2 separate regions of the Homo sapiens genome follow, and region 2 is linked to region 1. Evidence: fine-mapped expression QTL. A gene starts in region 1. The other region holds a variant in brackets. All regions are shown on one strand. Distances are from middle to middle.

The links. PIP is the estimated chance that this variant, and not a neighbour inherited with it, causes the effect.
Region 2: its variant is the best candidate, but not a certain one, in a credible set for the expression of TIA1 in whole blood (TOPMed, PIP 0.71).

What each region holds. Positions count from the first base shown.
Region 1 is chr2:70,247,240-70,250,154 of GRCh38, forward strand. It overlaps TIA1 (TIA1 cytotoxic granule associated RNA binding protein), which reads right to left and starts at 1,389. Exons shown (of 13, transcript NM_022173.4): 1 at 1,166-1,389. The coding sequence starts at 1,191. It overlaps TRG-CCC2-1 (tRNA-Gly (anticodon CCC) 2-1), which reads right to left and starts at 1,822; the gene lies at 1,752-1,822. RefSeq lists enhancers at 155-970, 971-1,785.
Region 2 is chr2:70,016,924-70,019,838 of GRCh38, forward strand. The region is part of intron 7 of PCBP1-AS1 (PCBP1 antisense RNA 1); the gene reads right to left. It also overlaps a transcript of ASPRV1 not described here. Among named protein-coding and RNA genes, the nearest start is that of ASPRV1, 57 kb to the left of the region's middle. The variant A/C (reference allele first, on the strand shown) is at 1,687.

The DNA.
Region 1 (2,915 bases):
ATTAACTGACAATCTATTAAGAAAACAAGTGTAACCACATTTCCAATATAGACAAGAAATAGCAACTTAAAAGTGGAAAAATTTTGGAGGTAAAAAAACAATTACATCGTACTTCAGAGCAACTTTATTAGAGAGCTGCAAAGAGAAACCTAAAATTGCATTTTTAATGCATGGAGCTCTCAAACTGCCAGTATTCCAAGAATATAAACAAAAAGCTATGTCATCCAAGAAAAACAAAAAGCTATGTCAAGAACTCATTGAGCTTTTCTTCTTCCGAGAAATGCCAACAAAGGCAGGATCAACTCATCCGATAATACCTCGAAAAACAAAGAACGCAGTTGGGGAAGCCACACGACAAAGAAAATATCCACGCTCCGGTAATTTAACGCTATCTCTAAAAATTCTCTGTAAATATGTTAGGGCATTTACAGCCCGCTCGTTCAACACCATGTCAATCACAACAGTAGTAAACGACTATAAAAATAATATTAAATCCATTTCCCCTCAATTGATATATTCCTTCTGGGTGAGATTTCCAAATCCTTGGGGTGTCTGGTTAGGCTTTTTGGTCGGTGGGTGCTACAGAAGGAAAGCCAGAGGTTAAAGAAAAATGCTTGGCTTTTTTCCAATTGGCAACTGCAAGAATAAAGTTTACTGCACTGAAAATGAGTACAAGCACCCTCGAGGAGGAAAAAAAATCTTATCACCGAGAAGAAAATGAAAGGAAGAATTTCAGTAGGAAATCAAAAGTAAAATTAAAGGGAGACGGCTGTAAAGATAAGAAGAGGTTAATCAAAAAGGGGGAGAAGCGGGAAAAGGAAAGAAAGCATAGGACAAAAGGAAGGTTCGACGAGTTCTAAAAAGAGGTCTGAATTAAAGTCTTTTCTCCAGGTCTAAGACCACAGAGGGCCCGTGGCGAGAGCAAAGGTCATGCAATGGTGTTGCTAAAGTGAAGGGATTAATTGAGAGGGTTGAGCCCCGTCTCCCTTCACCTCGTCCTCACAGATTGGGTCTTGGTTGTAAGCATCCAGGTGCATGCTAAGGAAACAAAAACCACGATATCGCGGTGTCCACGGAGAACAATAGGCTGGGAGCGGCGCAGGGCCGAGGCCTTCCCTCCGGGACGACCACCATCCCGCCTCCCTCATCGCTGCCCCAGACTCACAGAGTCTTGGGCATCTCGTCCTCCATGGCTGCTGCTGTCGCGGCGGCGCCTCCAGGTCCAGCTCCCTGCCCTTCACTACCTCCCAAATCGTTTAAGCGGTTATGGCTACAGGATAGTGGGGTTTCTCGGCTGACCAGAGGTTACTCCGCCTCCTCCTCCGGCGGCAATTACACTAAACCGCCCGGCCCAGCGGGAACAATGAAACCCCAATACAAGATGGCGGCGAGCCGGGAGCCTAGGAGCAGCCAGCAAAGTTACCCGGGCCGCGCAGGCGCAGAATAATCTTGCACTCTCAACCTCCGGGCCGCCCGGCTACACCTTAATCCATAGGTTCACTTGTTGCGCAGCCGCTCTTCCACCCGACGCGAGGGACGCCTCAGACTGCGCAGGCGCAAGTATTAACTACTTCACGATTTGCGTGAACTTTTTTGTCTTCTGGCTGCGGATTCGAGTGTTTCGACCGCGAATTATGAGGGAGTGGAAACCTTCAGGGACAGTAAAAAGCCTAAATCTTTCCTCTTTTGGAAAGATATATAAAGACTCTTCAAGCTATCTGGTTTTTAGCGAGCGAGAAGCAAAACGCCTATGCGCCGCCCGGGAATCGAACCCGGGTCGCAAGAATGGGAATCTTGCATGATACCACTACACCAGCGGCGCTGTTGACATGCCCAGCCGCCACAGTATTTTAGGAGGAAATAGAAGCAGACGTTCTCTCATGTGAAAAGAATTGTCATGTATTATTTATTCATTTAAAAGTAAAAGTTTATTGACAGTCTGTAATCTTCTGTTTTCCAATAACATAAATAATTTATCTTTTCTCATCCCAAACATAGGAATGGATGTTTCAACTTTCTCTGTACAGAAAAAAAATTTCAATTTAAAATGTTTACTTAAGAAATAAGAAAAAAGAAAAAAAGTTTTACTTAAAAAAGTAAGGATTTTATTAAGAATTTGCGTCGTTGGTGCTAGCCAGATTTTTCAGCGCGGGGAGGATATTTCCAGATGCCAGATTTTTATTTATATTTGCATTTCTTCCGTGTATTGATTGCACATTGAAAAGCATTTAAGAAATAGCTGTTTAGGCCGGGGGCAGTGGCTCACGCCTGTTATTCCAGCACTTTGGATGGCTGAGGCGGGCGGATCACCTGAGATCAGGAGTTCGAGACCAGCCTGACCAACATGGCGAAACCCTGTCTCTACTAAAAATACAAAAATTAGCTGGATGTGGTGGTGGGGGCCCGTAATCCCAACTACTCAGGAGGCTGAGGCAGGAGAATCCTTGAATCTGGGAGGTGGAGATTGCAGTGAGCCGAGATCTTGCCATTGCACTCCAGCCTGGGCAACAGAACGAGGATCCGTCTCAAAAAACAAACAAAGAAACAAACAAAAAACCCCAGCTATTTAATGCAAATTGGTCACAAGAATCTTAAAAGTAAACAAGTCAAAAGATACATAAACTTCAGTCCAACTTTAGGAGGCAGAGAAATTAGAGCTCTGAAATGTGATTCAGTATACTCTGTATGCATTTCACATTGCTTATTATATATATATGTCACTAAAGTAATCCTATGTCTAGGAATCTATCCTACAGAAATAAAACAATTAATTTATAAAGATTTATGTGCCAAGATACAACTGCAGCATTGTTTACAGTAGAAAAAAATGGAGTAACCTGAATATCCATCAATGCCACTTATGGTAATTTATTCAATTTACACCAAATACATGTGGAACTTTTTCTTTTTCTTTC
Region 2 (2,915 bases), 230 kb before region 1:
TTCAACATATACAAATCAATAAATATGATACACCACATTAACAGGAGGAAGGACAAAAGCCCTATGATCATCTCAATTTTTTTTTTACACGGAGTCTGGCTCTGTCACCCAGGCTGCAGTGCAGTGGCGTGATCTCAGATCACTGCAAGCTCCGCCTCCCGGGTTCATGCCATTCTCCTGCCTCAGCCTCCCAAGTAGCTGGGACTACAGGTGCCCACCACCATGCCTGGCTAATTTTTTTGTATTTTTAGTAGAGACAGGGTTTCACCATGTTAGCCAGGATGGTCTCCATCTCCTGATCTTGTGATCTGCCCACCTCAGCCTCCCAAAGTGCTGGGATTACAGGCGTGAGCCACCACGCCCAACCTGATCATCTCAATTGATGGAGAAAGGTATTCAACAAAATTAAACATCCTTTCATGATTAAAAACTCTCAATAAATTAGGCACAGAAGGAATGGACCTCAACACAGTAAGGGTCATGTACGATAAGCCCACAGCTAACATCATATTGAATAGTGAAAATTGAAAGTTTTTTTCGTAAGATTAGTAATAAGACAAGAATGCTTATTTCAGACACTTCTATTGAAAACAGTATTGGAAATCCTAGCCAGAACAATTAGTCAAGAGAAAGAAATAAAATTTGTCCAAATCGCAAAGGAAAAAGTTAAATTGTCTGTCTGTTGATGACATGATCTTTAGATAGACAATAGTAAAGACTCACCAAAAAACTGTTAGAACTGATAAACATATTCAGTAAAGTTGCAGGATACAAAATCAACATGCATTTGCTTGTCTGTTAGTATTTTTTTAAAAAAAAGAAACAAAATCAACATGCAAAATTCAGTAGTGTTTATATACAATAACAACGAACTATCAAAAAAATGAAGAAAACAATCTCATTTACAATAGCTATTTAAAAATACTTCGGAATAGGCTGGGCGCAGTGGCTCGCACCTGCAATCCCAGCACTTTGGGAGGCCAAGGTGGGAGGATCGCCTGAGCTCAGGAATTTGAGACCACACTGGGCAACATGGTGAAACCCCATCTCTACTAAAATACAAAAAATTAGCCAGGTGTCATAGTGCGTACCTGTAGTCCCGGCTACTCAGGAGGCTGAGGCACGAGAATCACTTGATCCCAGGAGGCGGAGGTTGCAGTGAGTCGAGATCACGCCACTCCAGCTTGGGCTACAGAGTGAGACTCCACCTCAAAAATAAATAAATAAATAAAATAAAATAAAATAAAATAAAATAAATGAATAAAAAATACTTAGGAATAAATTTAATCAAGGAAATGAAAGATCTGTACATGGAAAACACTGTTGAAACACTGACGAAAGAAACTGAAGAGGACACACACAAAACATGGAAAGATATGCTGTGTCCACGGTTTGGAAGAATTAATATTAAAATGCTCATACTACCCAAAATGACCTACAGATTCAAAGCAATCTCTATCAAAATACTAATAAAATTCTTCACAAAAATTGAAAAAACAACTCTGAAATTCCTATGGAACCACAAAAGACCCCAAATAGCCAAAGCAATCTGCAGCAAAAAGAACAAGGCTAGAGGTATCATACTGTCTGTCTCCAAAATATACTACAAAGCTGTAGTAACCAAAACAGCATGGTACCACCAAAAAACAGACACATAGACTAAAGGAACAAAATAAAGAACCCAGA[A/C]ATAAATCTATGTATTTACAGTCAACTGATTTTCAACAAAGGTCCCAAGAACACACACTGGGGAAAGGACAGCCTACTCAATAAATGGTGCTGGAAAAACTGGATATTCAAATACAGAAGAATGAAATTAGATGTTCATTTCACACCATATACAAAAATCAAATAAAAGTGGATTAAAGACAAACATAAGACCTGAAACTGTAACACTACTAGAAGAAAGCATAGGGAAAAAGCTTCATGACATTGGTCTGGGCAAAAATTTTGGATATGACTCCAAAAGCTCAGGCAACAAAAGCAAAATAGGATTACATCAAACTGAAACCCTTCCACACAGTAAAGGAAACAATACAGTGAAGAGAGAACTTACAGAGTGAGAGAATACATTTGCAAACCATGTATCTGAGAAGGGGTTGTTATGATCTAAAGTGTAGATAAGAAACTCAAACAACTCAGTAGGAAGAAAACAAATAACCAGAGTTTTAAAATGATCAAAGGACTTGAACAGACATTTCCCAAAATACGACATACAAATGGCCAACAGGAATCTGAAAAGGTGCTGAACTGCACTAATCACCAGAGAAATGCAATTCAAAACAATGACATATCACCTCACTCTTGTTAGAATGGCTATTGCAAAAAAGAGGAAAGATGACAAGCATTGGCAAGGATGTTGAGAAAAGGAAACCTTTGCACATTACTGACGCAAATGTGAATTAGTACAGCCATTAAGGAAAACACTATGGTGGTTCCTCAAAAATTTAAAAGTAGAACTACCATATGATCCAGCAATACCACTACTGGGCATATATCTAAGGGAAATGAAATCAGTATGTTGAAGAGATATTCACACTCCCATATTCATTACAGCATTATTCACAATAGCCAAGATATAAAATCAATGTAAGTGTCCATCAGCAGATGAATGGATAAAGAAAATGTGGTACATATACACAATGGAGTACCATTCATCCTTTAAAAGGAAGGAAATCCTGTCGTTTGTGACAACATGAGTGAACCTGGAGGATACTATGTCAAGTGAAATAAGCCAGGTACAGAAAGACAAGTACCACATGACCTCACTTATATATGGAGTATAAAATAGTTGAACTCATAGAAATAGAGAGTAAAATGGTGGTTACCAGAGGGTGGCGGGTGGGGAGATTGGAAGGATGTTGGTCAAAGGACACAAAATTTGTTAGACAGGAGGAACAAGTTCAAGAGATCCACTG